2 separate regions of the Homo sapiens genome follow, and region 1 is linked to region 2. Evidence: fine-mapped expression QTL. Tissue or cell type: whole blood. Region 2 holds a variant in brackets; the other region holds the start of a gene. All regions are shown on one strand. Distances are from middle to middle.

What was found. PIP is the estimated chance that this variant, and not a neighbour inherited with it, causes the effect.
Region 1: it holds the start of MIR31HG, and the variant in region 2 is fine-mapped to the expression of MIR31HG in whole blood (TOPMed, PIP above 0.99).

Annotation. Positions count from the first base shown.
Region 1 is chr9:21,554,930-21,563,040 of GRCh38, forward strand. It overlaps MIR31HG (MIR31 host gene), which reads right to left and starts at 4,869. Exons shown (of 3, transcript NR_152879.1): 1 at 4,560-4,869. RefSeq lists an enhancer at 3,644-4,430.
Region 2 is chr9:21,485,233-21,493,343 of GRCh38, forward strand. The region is part of intron 1 of MIR31HG (MIR31 host gene); the gene reads right to left. Among named protein-coding and RNA genes, the nearest start is that of IFNE, 7.0 kb to the left of the region's middle. RefSeq lists an enhancer at 2,048-2,637. The variant A/C (reference allele first, on the strand shown) is at 4,828.

The sequences.
Region 1 (8,111 bases), 70 kb after region 2:
TGTGTATTTGTTTTCAAATTTTATCTACTTCCATTCTCACCTATAAAAAGGAAATGAGTTTTGAGTCACGGCACAGAATATGAAAAGAAAATGTCAAGTGACAATATTACCAGTTTTTACTTCAAAAACCACTCTAGTTAAAAGCTACTTAAATCCTAATTTTTAAGGCTTCATTTACTTTATGTGGATTTTACTTCAGAGAACTCACACTTTTAGTGCTTTAGTCCACTGCTTCTTATATGAAATTTTTTATTTAGTTAATGAAGTTGAGATAATCAGTAAAAGGTTTGATCAGTGAGGCAAAACTCCCCAGGATAATCATTCAATAATGACTTTATGACTGGAATTTCTACTTCAACATGTGCTATAACTCAAAAATCTCAAGTTATTTTAGATAGTAAGATCGTACCAGTTTGACTTTTGGGGAAATCAATCCTTTGCTTGTATTCAAACCTTGGACTCTAAAATAGTCTCACCTCACATACTAGAAGCTTCTAGAGCAGGACTTTCTGAGATGATTTCTTTATCTTATTTTATACATATCCAATTTACTAACGTGGCCCAAGTCCACCTGAAATTTGGCAGAAATAAGACGTCAGTTGTCGGATTACACTGGTTTTTAGATGCAGTTCATTTTCCTTTCCTGCTACCCTCCTCAGAATCAAAATTACCTCTAAGCAAAGAACCTAGATTTAAAATACAAAGAAGAAAATCCAACACAGAATTACCTAAGGAGAAGTGAAAGAACTTTTCTGTAACCAATGCTATGCCTTCTTGGTCACTTTAATATTTGCCATTTTATTGTACTTTTCCCCTCTTCCAAATTGTAGAAGCACTCTATAGAAGTAAAACAAAAAAGAGAACTATAACGCAAACTCTTAATAATTCAAAATAAGTGAAAAACTTAGATTCTTGAGCCACACTCCCCTATATGCTACCTACCCTGGCGGACTTACAATCAAATCATACTTTATTTCTTTCTAATTAGGTTGAAAGTAGTATGAACAAGGCTACTGCCTATACACAAATGGCACTAATTTTCCCATTTGGGTCTAAGTCTTTTAACTTCAACTGTTATGCCCCTGGCAAGGAAGTAAAGCTGAATTGGACAAGACCAAAACATTTCGTGGGTTTGATTTGCTGCGGATCATGAAGTTGGCTTTGCAAATGGCAGAGAAGGGGACTCCTTCACTACTGCTAACTCACAGGAATCAATGTGAAAGAGCTGTGGGGAATTAAGACTCAGAACTTCTTAACTGGCTCAGATTCATATGGACTCAGGCTTATCAGGCAGAACTATGATCAACCCACGTAGCAGGTTTTATTAATTTTCCCTATACAATCTTTCACCGCTCAGTAGTCGATCCTTTGTCAGAGGCAGCACAATCACAGAAATGGAAACTGGGCCACAAACTGCTTAGCATAAATGTTTCCAAGGCCAATAAAAATGGCATTTTTCCCCTGCCATTTGCCCAAAAGTATAATTTTTATTAATATAATTATTATTTTACTTAAAGAATCAGTGCTATTTGGACATTGCTCTTAAATGGAAATTACTTAATAACACATTTAATTTAGAAATTGGCTTCTAAATTAATGCTGACAGCTTGGAAGCTGGTATTTAGACAAAATAGAGTAAGCTGTGTATTCGATAAAGCCATGATTAAGGATTTTCAAATGAGATTTATTTTTTCTGTTGTCTGCTGTATTTTAGTACAACCAATAACTACATCCTGACAAAAAAATTCAATTACATAATAAAGCAGAAACTTCTAGGAAGTCCGAAAGTAAGTTTTGTTCTCAGACTCTTTTTACTCCCCTCCATACTGCAAACCAGCACACATATATACAATCGATTTTTCCCCTTCATCTAGACTCTTACCAAAATTATTTTAATAATTTCCTGGACTGCCTTCTCACATAAGATGTGGATAAAAAAGCCTCAATATCCATAAATACAGCAAGCACTTATATTGTACAAATAAAATAACTGACTTACTTTCTAAACACTTAATTGTATTTAAAAAGATGACATAGTTAAGAAGTCCTCAGTGAAACTACAGTTTATAACACAAAGATCAAATTTCGCTGTTTCTTAGTTAAGATTGACCTACCCTAGATCCAACAAAAGTTGCTGTTTTTTTTCCTCACTTCCATAAAAATTTCTGAATCACTTGGGAGATTATTTCTAAGGAAATAGTTGTGAAACCAAGAAGCTGTTCAAACTTAAGCATCAATTCTTTTGTTAATTCATTTTATGATTAAAAGAACTACCAAAAACATTACTCTCTAAGAATCCTATCATTATATGTATTTTAAAGTGTCTTCAAAAAGCCATTTTATCTTAAAGCTGGATTTCATTCCTCAAATGTTAATAATCTGGGATTGCATCTCTTGCTTTTTTACAGTTAAAATTTGTTTAGAGCCCCCCCGATGTTTATATGCCAAAGCTACCTAGATACACACAATGAAGAAAAACTGTGGCAATTATATGAAAAATATAATGACATCTGTCATTAAATGTCAATGTTTCAAGTAAAACATTTCTTATAAAAACCTGTTACTGAAGAAAAGAACTGTTAAAGTACATGAATTAAAGTATTTTTAATTATCCCAAATACGTACCAACCAAATTTAACTACAGCTTAGTTTTTTAGGCAAACCAAGATGACTATTTTTTTTAATCTGAGAAAAACATGGTATGTAGAAAAATTCTATTTTATTCAGTTCAACACTCTTCACTTGAGGATATGAAATTTATAAGTATGCAATCTCCTTGAAATTGTAAAAATATAATACACAATTTTATACTACCTTCTAATTTTACTTCCTCAAGCATTTGTTGTAGTTTCTAGAATAGCTATCTAGCCATTACACTGTACATAAAAGTGATCCTCCAATTTATTTCCACTTCTAAAAAGATGCTTAAATATAGAATAAAGCATTTCATACCTCCCTTCTCGTTTAAAATTCCAAAAAGGGCCAACAATCCACATTATAGGTTAAACACTTTGTCTCTGTTATACACTTTTCAGAATTTATAAGACTGAAAAATTATAAAATTTCATCCAATGAATAATTCTGTACTTTATTAAAGTCTGGTTTCTCTAAACATTTACCTATCATCTAAGCAATATTAACATGTACAACAAAGTAGTAATATGGTATAAATAGAAAATAAACACTCCAAGCTGATAATTCCATAAGGTCTAATGATTCTATTAAAACAAACACAAATCAAAATTTTCCATTTTAGGGCCCCAAATTCAACTTGAAACATTTTTTATATGATAAGATTAAAGCAGCTGCCCAATTTTCAGGAAGCTCTGTCTCAAGTTAAGGAAAAAAAGAGAAAGGAGGAACTATAGTTCTTTGGGTGACTTAAATCACTGCCTTTTTTACTTTTTTTGCCTTAAAATCAAGATAAAGTTCTCACCTAAAGATTAACCTCTGAAGACAATGAAAAATAACCAGGATTGGACTTTAAAAAACAACTTAAAAGTCAGCCCCCTCATACAAAACTCGACAACAAATAAACCTAGACTTAACTGTCATTTTCAAATCCAATTTTTACCTGAATTGGTAAAAATTTATTTAAAACAAAATGCAAAATACAATATTGTTTCAATTTTGGCCCAGGAGATAAACACTTTAATGCAGAGTTAATAAACTCCAGCGAATAAATAGGATCATTTTCCTAATTTCACTTCAAAGCTGCCAGGATTTCAATAAGGAAGTTCAAAGGCCCGATTCCAGAAACTAGAGGTCCCCGGAAAGTGAGGGGCGTCTGGCCACAGCCTCAGTTCCAAACCAGGTATAGTTCTTGAGCTGTCATTCTTAGTCCTATTACCACTAATACAAGGTCAAAAAAACGGTCCTGTAAGGTGTCAATTAAGGGGTCACTTTTGCCTAAGGTTTCCTTAACTTCTCTCCTAGTGAAGCCGCTCTAAGTGAACATTTCCGCTGTGTTTTTTTTAATGACTGCCATTGTCTCGCTGGAGAATCGGAGGCTCTTTTAGAAGTACTGTTGGAAAATTCAGGATTTTACAAAACATTTTCTCAGCTGTACAGGGCAAAAACAAACTTTAATCCTACTAGCCATGGGTGTAAACCACAAGCCTAATTTCTCTTCTAAGAAGGGAAAGCTTAGTTAAGTTTTAAAGTGACAGTAATTTTAGGTGGTAAAATGAGCTCAACTCAAACATCGCTGTATGAAAGCGCTCTCCGCCAACACGCTCATGGACACACACAACTCCTTCCTCGAGGTTTAGGGACAGAGAGCGAACCTGTGACTTCGGGCCAGGATGACGACCTGAGATTTGGACAAGAGGAGGCGGCGGTTCCGCGAAGAGCCAAGGGCGGCCGGCGCTCCGGGATGCGCCGGACCCCGCGGCGCATCCTCGTTTGGGCGCCAACGGGCGCCGGCGGTCCTCGGACCCGGGTGTCGACTGCCGTGTGCCCACTGCCGTGTGCCCAGGCCCCGAAGCCTCCTCAACTCCTTGAGGGGCGCCTCCCTAGCCAGCTCAGCGCGCAGCGGGACCAAGGCTCTCCCAGCTTACCTGCGGGTCCGAGTAGGAGGACAGAAGCGCCGCCCGGCCTCGCCCAAGCGCACACGAAGGGGCCGCTTCCCGCCCCCCGCACCCCAGACCAGGCGGCTCACGGAACACCGCCTCCCAGCTCTGGCCCGGGACCAGGCGGTCCCCCAGCCGGCTTCGGCGCCGCGGCCGGGGACGCGCGTCTTCCTTCTCCAGGCGCCGGACGTGGAACCTGCGAGCCCCTGGCGGCGCCCCAAGTTATGCACAGGTCGCAGCTGCTCACCAAGCTCCTCCTGGGAGGCCGCCCTGGTCCCCGAGAGGGGCGCGCGGGAGTGGACGTTCCCGCACCTTCGCCCCATCCACACCTGCCGCCGCCGCCGGGGCCGCCAGCGCCGTGGCTCCGCCCCGGCTCCGCCCCTCGCCGCCCCCGGCTCCCGCTCCAGCCGCCGCCGCGACCGCCGCGGAAAGGAGGGGGAGGGAAGAGGCGCCTGGACGGGGCTGCGGGAGCGGCCGTGCTGAGCCTCCTCCCTTGGGCCCGGACGGGACCCAGGTTTCTCCACTGCAACGCAGCTCCCGAGTGACGGAATTTTGTGGGGGAAGCGGCGGCCACTACGCTCGCTTTTGGCACAGTAGCCCTTTGCGGGTGGGAGCTTCTCGCAGTCAGAGCTAAGGGAGAGGGAGTCCACCTGCAAGAGCCAGAGCTCGCCCTTGTACTCTCCGAATGCAAACTTAGCAAATTGAACAGCGGAAGTACTTCCTTGGTCGGACCCCTGCTCTTCTAGGGGTCTTCTAGAAACGTGGCGGCTATCACAGGCCCCGTGGTATAACTGGCATTTGGAAAACGAGGGTGTTTTTCCATCTGGAGTGGCCTCTCTCCTATCCTCAACCCTCCGTGTCCTTCGACGCCTCTCTCAGATGCCATCTCCACCAAGAATTTTTTCCGGGTACCCACCTGCGCCCAGATTTGATTCCGCCCTCTTTGGGACAGCCTGGGTGCTCTGAACCTTTCCACTGCCCCTTCAGGTGTATGAGAGCGCCTTGTGAAATGCATGGGCCATCGTTAGTTATTTTTATTGCAATATGTGGTTTCATATTCAGTACTGTAGTATACAAGCAGAGATATTTATGCTTTCACAACACTTTTCATTTGGGTTTGAATTCCTTAAACATGAAGACTATAGTAAGTTGCCCATCTCTGGAAGTAAATACTGAGGGGTACATGGCAGGGTAATCCGACCCGATGACCTAGCCAGAAGTTCTGGCTGTCCTACTCAACTATGCCCTCCGCAAGCCCAGCATGGTAGCCTTTCACCTGGATTTGAAGGGGAAAATTGTATTTCTCTCTGAATGTAATTACATTTTGGCAAAGGTCAGTCTAGTTACCACCAAAAAATATTCTACGAGTTGAAGGGTGGGGGTGGGAGCGTCAGAGCAAGGTTAATAGTGGTATTTTATTGATTTTGAAGTAAATATAACTCTACGTAGTCATTTGTTCAACCAAAACGAAAAATATTCATCAAATATTCCCTAATAAGTTGGTACTCATTTCCTTAGCCACTTTAAAAAACACAAGTCAAATATAATTGATTATATAAATTGTATTTGCATGAAGATTTGAGTCCAAGGACTATAAGAAAGATTCAAATTTTAAATTTTCTGCATACGATATGGTTAAATAAAATGTTTGTATACTATTTCCTATACCTAAGTGTATGTTTTGAGTTGAGATGTCAGTAGTGTTTAATGGTTAATAGTGTTAAGTAAACGACAGCTAGGAATCACTACAGTTAGCTTAGAACAGGTTGAATTTATGAACTCCCATTTTAAAGAACTGAGAAATCTCAAACCATATGACTGCCTTGACCAAGAAATAAAAAAAATTAAACAGATTCTTAATATTAAAATTTCTGAAAATTTTGAAAAATGAATTTTTAAAATTAACAGTCCTAGTATTTTTAAAAAGCAAATATTTTAGAAATCATGAAAAATGTACCTTAAGATGTAAAAGAGGATAAACCTCAGAGCTAAGGTCTTTTTAAAAATGTAGTTAGTGAAACCTATTCATGGAAAACTCAAAAGCATTCTTTGAAGTGAAAAAAGTACTCTAAATTTATTATGGAAAGTATAGTATCATTGAACTCAAATAGCTATTTTAAACATCGTAATTCTGTGAGTAACAAGAAAAAAAAGCTTTCCTTATATGTGAATCCCACTAGGCAAGACTTTGTCCAAAGTCCAACAGAAAAAAATATTGAATAAACAAGCATAAGCATCTCATTCGTGGAACATATTTTTAAGCTTTTATACAGAAGCCCAAAATAATATTATAGAAAAGATTACACAATTGCATAGCCAAAATTATATATCATAATATTATGAATAGCAAAGAAGCAAAGAAGGAATAATTCACCTCAAATAGCAAATAAACAAAAAGTGTCTTAAGCCCATAGTATCTTTTAGACTTCAACTGAGGCAAGCAAGCTGTTTGGCCCAAGACAAATATACATAATATCACAGTAAACCCAGAGCTAATAGAATACAGCCATAAGAGGCCCACATTGCAAACACACAGGCATCTGTAGCTAAAACTATCAAAGGGGCTTGCCCAGGGTACTTCACATACAACTTTTTGTTCCATCTTACTTCATTATAATGACAGCATCATCTTGAATGTGAGAATTTCCTCCTCAACCTTTACCTGCAAGTAAAAGATGAACCACTACTCATTTTCTAGTTGTACCCTAAAATGAATAAATAAGTCAAAGTTTCTACTGGCATTTAAATTATTTCTAAATATATTACTTACAAAGCTTAATGTATTATTTTAGTGATTAATAATTTCTGTACCATAAAACTTGTTCTGTATTAGTTATCACGTCTTTATACATCCACTGGTAATCAAGGACTTTCAGAAGAGAGTAGAATACAATCTTTATTTTATTTAAAGTTTAAATATATGTATTTAAGATACATATGTGTATGTGTGTGTATACATATGTATGTGTGTGTGTGTATATATATATATATAAATATAAATATAAAATGCACCCACACACATGAAGTACAGGACAAATGGGAACAGAAATGCCAAAACAATCTTTTTCCAAAATAAATATTTATAATAATTATAAAATAAATTATTAACAGAAAGTATACAAAGTGTGCTTTCCATTTCATTTTTAGTTTACTTATTTAGAAATGTTTTTGCATGTAAGCAAACCCAAATTCTGGTGATTATTATTAGTATTGTTTTTGAACAATGAGGTGGTGCAAGAAGCATTGGAAAGAATTTCTTAGCGGTCTCTCTGGCATTTTTTGAAGTTCTAATAAGCTTTTATGTGGAAGTTAGCAGATAATTTCAGTTTAAGTGATTTGACTGATGACATCGACAAATATTTTAATGTCTTCTTTATAGTAGACATGTTATAGAAAAACTTTATATATAAAAAGTTTATATACAGAAAACTTGCTAAAAAGTATTTTATAGTTCTTTACGTAGAAAAACTTGCTAAAAAGACAACACTATAAATATCTATGCAAATGTTATTATCTGTTCAAACTAGATGGTGGGTGTAT
Region 2 (8,111 bases):
TTAATCCCATCCAGTATATTTATCACTTCAGATATTATACTTTCATTTGTAGAAGTTGAATTTGTTTCTTTTTCATATCTACATTTCTTTCCTCATCACATTCATCTTTTCCTCTACATTCTTGAGCATATGGAGTACATTTATAGTAGGTGTTTAATCTCCTTTTCTGATAATTCTATCATTTGTGTCATTTCTGAGTCTGGTCTTGTCAATTATATTTCTACTCTTTATGGGTCCTATTTTCCTATGTCTTTTGCATGTTTGGTAACTTTTGAGTGGATTCTGAGCATTGTAAATTTTACTTTAATGGGAGTTGGATTTGTTAAGTCCTTTACGTACAGTTGAACTTTGTTTTAGGGTATAGTTGAGTTACTTGGAATTGGATTCCTCTGACATTGGCTTTGTTAGCATGAGTGAAGCAGACTTTATAATTTAGGGCAATGCCTTTGTAACCAAGAATATAGTCTTTTGAGGACTCTACTTAATGCTCTCTGAATTTGGAGATTTTTGCCCTCTGGCTGCTGGAAACATGAAATATCCCCAGCCCTGTGTTAGCACTGGGGACAGCCTGTACTGCCTGCTCCTTTCTGGGTGTTCTTTTCCTAATCGGGTAACTCCTTTACGCACATACACAAACCACACATTAGCTAAAGACTCCTGAAGACATTTTTACAGATCTTCGTAGCTCTCATTCATTCTTCCCCAATTTCCCTCTGTGCAGCAATATCTTCTCCAATATTTTTCTGCCTCCCTGAACTCCAAACTATGACATATCAACTCATTGAGAACACTGGTCTGTTGGAGTTTCCTCCTCTTTGTGCTGCAGCCTGCCAATTTTCTATCCAGCATTAAGCTGGAGCAATTGTAGGGCTTACTGTATTTCTTTCCTTTCTCTCAAGGATCATTATCTTACGCTGTCTGTTATCCAATGTCTAAAAACTATTTTTCGTATATTTTACTCAGTATTCTAGTTGTTCAAAGTGAGATGATAAATCTAGTTGTCCCTCATGACTAGAAGTGGAGGTTCTCTCATTATAAATAATCTAAAGTGGGAGTTGGCAAACTATAGCCTATGGACCAAATCTGTCCTACCACCTCCTGCTTCTTCTTTTTTTTTTTTTTTTTTTTTTTTTTTGAGATGGAGTTTTGCTTTGTCGCCCAGGCTGGCGTGCAGTGGCTTGATCTCGGCTAACCGCAAGCTCCGCCTCCCAGGTTCACGCCATTCTCCTGCCTCAGCCTCCCAAGTAGCTGGGACTACAGGCGCCCACCACCACACCCAGCTAATTTTTTTATATTTTTAGTAGAGATGGGGTTTCACTGTTTTAGCCAGGATGGTCTCGATCTCCTGACCTCGTGATCTGCCCGCCTTGGCCTCCCAAAGTGCTGGAATTACAGGCGTGAGCCACTGCATCTGGCCTACCACCTACTTTTGTAAATAAAGTTTTACTAGAACACAATGATGCTCATTTGTTATGGCACTTTCATGCTACAATAGCAAGGCTGAATAGTTGTGATAGGAACTATATGGTCTACAAAACCTGAAATATTTACTCTCTGGTCTTTTACAGAAAGGTTTGCTGAACCCTGATCTAAAAGATTAAAAACAAAATATAATTGTATTCAAAGTCTAGAAATTTTGAAAATGTTTTCACAAAAAATGTAATCTAAAGTAAATGTTAAAAATATTACATATTTTATATTTTCAAAAAACATGAAATATTTTATACAATGTTATCTATCAAAATTAAAAGACAACATGTGTGGTATAATTAATATCAAATTTAAACTGACAGTATTTAAATAAAGCATATACTTAACCTTTTAATTAAAAACGTATTAAGCATTAAAAATGTTTATAAAAGTAAAATTACATGCAATTCTATCTTACAAGGTTCATATGGATAACAATGTAAAAAAAAATGTATCACACTTCCAGCATATGTCTAGACCAACATAAATTAAGATTTAAGAGTAAAATAAATTGATTAATATTGAGAAATATTTTCCAGCCTCCATGTACAACTATTGCCAATGCCCATCATAATTTATGAGTCCCTCCTGAATCACTAATTGTTTTTTTTTTTTTTTTTTTTTTTTGAGCAACATGGCTCTTTATTTCACCTGGGTGCAGGCGGGCTGAGTCCGAAAAGAGTCAGGGAAGGGAGATAAGGGTGGGGCCGTTTTATAGGATTTGGGTAGGTAAAGGAAAATTACACTCAAAGGGGGTTTGTTCTCTGGTGGGCAGGAGTGGGGGTTCGCAAGGTGCTCAGTGGGGGTGCTTTTCGAGCCAGGATGAGCCAGGAAAAGGACTTTCACAAGGTAATGTCATCACTTAAGGCAAGGACTGGCCATTTACACTTCTTTTGTGGTGGAATGTCATCAGTTAAGGTGGGGCAGGGCATGTTCACTTCTTTTGTGATTCTTCAGTTACTTCAGGCCATCTGGGCGTATACGTGCAAGTCACAGGGGATGCAATGGCTTGGCTTGGGCTCAGAGGCCTGACATTCCTGCCTTCTTATATTAATAAGAAAAATAAAACAAAATAGTGAAGTGTTGGGGCGGCAAAAATTTCTGGCGGGTGATATGGACAGAGAATGGGCGATGTTTCTCAGGGCTGCTTCAAGCGGGATTGGGGCGGCGTGGGAACCTAGAGTGGGAGAGATTAAGCTGAAGGGAGGTCTTGTGGTAAGGGGTGATATTGTGGGGATGTTAGAAGAAACATCTGTCATATAGAATGATTGGTTGGCCTGGATACGGTCTTGGATGAAGTGACAAACTAAATGGAATAAGAGAAGGAGAAAAACAGGTATAAAAGGACTAAGAATTGGGAGGACCTAGGACATCTAATTAGAGAGTGCCTAAGGAGATTCAGCATAGTCCTGCCAGCAAAGATTATTTATTTACTTCAAGAGTTTAGAGTGGCAGTTTGGGGATAGCACCAGGAGATATCAGCTGCGATGGCTTGGAGAAACAGTGTAAACCAGCAGTGTAAACAAGAGCAGGGCATGTATGAGTAGTTGAGAACGGTGAATAGGAGTATGACTAACAGATGAGGATGAAATTTGGGCTTGACTGAAGTAATGGGGGCTGTCTGTGAAGCCTTGCGGCAGTATAGCCCAGGTAATTTGCTGAGCCTAATGGGTGTCAGGGTCAGTCTAAGTGAAGGCAAGTGTTAACAGGCTTTAATCCTTTCAAAGCATGCTGTGGGATGGGATATTGGCATTGAGCCAGGTAAGGGTGATTAGGTTTTAATGAGATGGTAAGGGGTGCATGATCGGTCGCCAAGGAGGGAGTAGAGGTATCTTATACTTGTGGGTTAAGATGGGGGAATACAAGAGGAGGACGCAAAAGAGGCTTTGGATTGGGAAGAAGGGCATCAATGAGATGCGGCTATGGTCCAGGAATAGTCAGGGAAGCAGATAATTTGGTTAAAATGTCTCAGCCTAATAAGGGAACTGGGCAGGTGGGGATAACTAAAAAGGAGTGCTTAAAAGAGTATTGTCTAAGTTGGCACCAGAGTTGGGGAGTTTTAAGAGGTTTAGAAGCCTGGCCGTCAATACCCACAACAGTTATGGGGGCAAGGGAAACAGGCCCTTGAAAAGAAGGTAATATGGAGTGGGTAGCCTCCGTATTGATTAAGAAGGGGACAGACTTACCTTCCACTGTGAGAGTTACCCGAAGCTTGGCGTCCGTGATGGTCTAGGGGGCTTCCGAGGCGATCGGGCAGCGTCAGTCTTCAGCCGCTAAGCCAAGAAGATCTGGGAAGCAGTCAGAGAGCCTTGGGCCAGAGTTCCAGGGACTCTGGGAGTGGCTGCCAGGTGAGTTGGACAGTCCGATTGCCAGTGGGGTCCCGCACAGATGGGACACGGCTTAGGAGGAATCTTGGGCTGCAGGCATTCCTTGGCCTGGTGGCCACATTTCTGGCACTTGCAGCAAACTCCTGGGGGAGGAGGTTCTGGAGGAATGCCTGGCCGCTGCGGTTCAGGCGTTTGGAAGTTCTTGTGTGCTGGAGATGTGGCTGGGGTTTGTCTCACAGTGGAGGCAAGGAGTTGAAACTTTTTTCTATTATTGTACACCTTGAAGGCAAGGTTAATTAAATCCTGTTGTGGGATTTGAGGGCCGGAATTTAATTTTTGGAGTTTTATTTAATGTTGGGAGCAGATTGGGTAATAAAATGTATATTGAGAATAAGATGGCCTTTTGACCTTTTAGGGTCTAGGGCTGTAAAGCATCTCAGGGTTGCTGCCGAACGAGCCATGAACTGGGCTGGGTTTTTATATTTGATGAAAAAGAGCCTAAACGCTATCTGATTTGGGATAAAGAAAAAGGAGCATTAACCTTGATTATGCCTTTGGCTCCAGCCACCTTTTTAAGAGTAAATTGCTGGGCAGGTGGGGGAGGGCTAGTCACGGAACGAAACTGTAAGCCCGACCAGGTGTGAGGAGGGGAGGCGATAAAAAGATTATAGGGTGGAGGAACGGAGGCTGAGGAAGAATTGGGACCTAGCTCGGCCTGGCGAGGAGGGGAGAGGTCAGATGGGTCTGTAGAAAAGGAAGATTAGAAAGACTCAGCGACGCTTGGGGTTGGGACTGAGGGGACAGGCGGGAGGGAAAGAAGGAAGATTTGGGACGAGTTGCACTGGGCGCAGAGACTAGGAAGGGACTGATGTGTAAAAGAATGCCTGGATGTCAGGCACCTCAGACCGTTTGCCTATTTTACGACAAGAATTATTTAGATATTGCAGGATGGAAAAATTCAAAGTGCCATTTTCTGGCTATTTGGAACTACTGTCGAGTTTGTATTGGGGTCAAGCGGCATTGCAGAAGA[A/C]AATAAGGCATTTAGGTTTTAGGTCAGGTGAGGATTGAAGAGGTTTTAAGTTCTTAAGAATACAGGCTAAGGGAGAAGAAGGAGGAATGGAAGGTGGAAGCTTGCCCATAGTGAAGGAGGCAAGCCCAGAGAAAAGAGTAGAGACACGGAGAAGGGGTGGGGGTTTCTTGCCCTCCAGAAAAGCAGAGAAAGGGTTGGGGCACAGAAATAAGGGATTGGGGCGCAGAGATAAGAGGTTGGGGCATGGAAATAAGCGATTGGGGTGCAGAGATAAGAGGTTGGGGCGCAGAGATAAGAGGTTGGGGCATGGAAATAAGCGGTTGGGGGTTCTTGCCCCCTAGGAAAGCGGGACTCGCCGCTAAGGGTGAAGGAGAAGGGGTTGAGGGGTACTTGCCCCTGCCCCAGGAAAGCAGAGAAGGGGTAGAGACAAGGAGAGAAGAGGTTGAGGGCTATTTGCCCCTCTCCCAGAAAAGCAGAGAAGGGGTAGAGACAAGGAGAGAAGGGGTTGAGGTACTTGCCCCTTCCCCAGAAAAGCGGGACTTGCCGCTAAGGGTGAAGGACCAAGGCAGGCGTCCCTGCGTGGTCTGACACCCTTGAAACATGGCTGAATGATCAGAGAGGCGTCCCTGCAATGATTAAACACCAAGGGAAGGCTGCCTTCCCAATCCGTGACCGGCGCCGGAGTTTTGGGTCTATGAATAAAACGTGTCTCCTTTGTCTCTCCCAGAAAATGAAAGGAATTGAAATTAAGAGAAGGGAGAGATTGAAGAGTGGAAAGGAGAAAGTGGTTGAGGGACAGTGAGAGAGGTTGGAGAAGAGAGTAAGATGAGGCCGCTTACCGGATTTGAAATTGGTGAGATGTTCCTTGGGCTGGTTGGTCTGAGGACCTGAGGTCGTAGGTGGATCTTTCTCACAGAGCAAAGAGCAGGAGGATGGGGGATTGATCTCCCAAGGGAGGTCCCCTGTTCCGAGTCAAGGCACCAAATTTCATGCGCGTCCGTGTGAAGAGACCACCAAACAGCTGAATCACTAATTGTTACGTAAAGACAAGCAAGAGAATGGACACTGGGGACTATTGAGACATGGTATTTCATTTTGTAAGAATCTATTGCGTTCCTGCTGTCCTTGAGGAAGGGTTTACTAGGCAATTAATGTGTCTTCTCTTTCCTCTGCAGCTCAAATCCCCTACATTCCAAGGCAACGTCTCCTTCATGGCATCAGGTACAGTCAATTTTTTGTAGGGGACTGAAAGCAAGAGATGTGGAGAAATATCTCCCTGGGTACCAAATGGAATTACTAATGAGCATGTATATTTAGAGTTATTGGGCCATATGTGAGCACTGAGTACCAGATCCTAAGTGATGTGGGTACTAGATGCTTTTTTAAAATGTTGTGTGTGTCTATGCATGTGTGTGTATGTGCACTTCCGTGTGTGCATACACATGTGTTGTATAAATTGAATCATGTCTGATATTCAGGTTTCTCAAAAGGGCAAGACCTAGAGTAGAGCATAGGTCACTCTTGTCTGAATCTAAGGATGGTATTAAGGAAATTCACTGCATGCTTACATTGCTTAGAGAAAGACAATGGAAAGTGTCATGATGATGAAAAAAGGGCTAAATCTTAAGTATCAGTCAGTATGACGAAGTCTCTAAAATAAATTAAACAAACGACTGGTAGTTCATCTTTAGCTAGAATGGGCTTTTCAATGACTTTTAAATTTATTACATAAGTATCAAGTTTTATTTATTCACTTGTCTCCATAAATTATTTATCATTACTGTCAATCTAAAAAATGTAATTAAAATTGTGATACCCTCTGTTTAAAACACACAAAAACAGTTCCAGTTAGTAAACGAGGCATTTTAAATTCAACCAAAGGATGGCAGCATAATATCAATTACTTAGAGCCTGGGATAAACTTTGCTGTTGGTAAGATATCACAAATTAATGGTATCTAGTGGTCTGATAATGTATGATCAGCAATACATTACTCAGACCAGGTGTATTGTTCCCATAACACATTAGCTCACTAGTCTGTCTAATCCATATTAAGATACTTGCTGGTTAGTATTGTTATATTTTCCTTTTTTGCCTTGACCACTCTAATGGACATGCCTTGCTTTCTGGCCATCTACTACCTCCTCTCCCTTTCTGGGGGTCGGGGGGTGGGGGCGTCTGTAAACATATTCTAACTTCTCTGACCACTCTGGGATCTTGTGCTCTGGCCAGACTCTCCAGCGTGCCACACACAGGGTGCCACATCTAGCCCTATCCCAAGCTACTCAGCGCCTCCCTTTGCTCTGGCCTCAGTTATTATTTCAGATATGGTTATTTTTCCCAATGGTATCGACACAGCTCTACTCCATTTTCTGAGCATAAACTTTCAAATATTTGACCATATTAATTTATCTATCATAGAATTCTGGAGCTGGAATTGATCTTAAATTGATATCTAATCTCTGCTTCCCTTTCCCTTTTTGAAAAATTCAGTCCTAAAGACAATAGATGGACAAAACAATGTAAGCATTTTGCTGGAAAGGGCAGGAAGCCACACTGCTGGAGCTCAGACAGGCAAAGGTGACTGTTTATGTGGAGAGAGAACCTGGCATGGGTGTCACAGCCTAAGAGTGATTAGAGCATCCGTGGAGCGGGGCTGCTGTGGGGAGTCATAACTTGAGTGGAGTGAGGAGAAATATTCTGTAAAACAATTGCCCTGTAATCGTTCAAGGTCATGAAAATCAACAAAGACCCAGCAACTGCTCCAGACTATAAGAGACTAAAGAATATAGCAACTGAATGCATAGCATGATTCTGAACAGGATCCATTTGCTACTAGGAATATTATAGGGTCCAAGCACCGTGGCTCACACCTGTAATCCCAGCACTTTTGGAGGCTGAGGCGGGTGTATCACCTGAGGTCAGGAGTTTGAAACCAGCCTGGCCAACATGGTGTAACCCCATCTCTACCAAAAATACAAAAATTAGCTGGGTGTGGTGACGGGTGCCTGTAATCCCAGCTACTTGGGAGGCTGAGGCAGGAGAATAGCTTGAACCTGAGAGGTGGAGAGTGCCGTAAACTGAGATTATGCCACTGCACTCCAGCCTGGGTGACAGAACAAGACTCCATTTCAAAAAAAAAAAAGAATATTATTGGATTATTGGGACTACAAATCTAAATACGAACACTGAGTATCATATGGTGCTAACGTAACAATGTTAATTTCTGAATTTTGTTGTGGTTATGCAGGGAAAATATCTCTGTTGGTAGGAAACACACATTA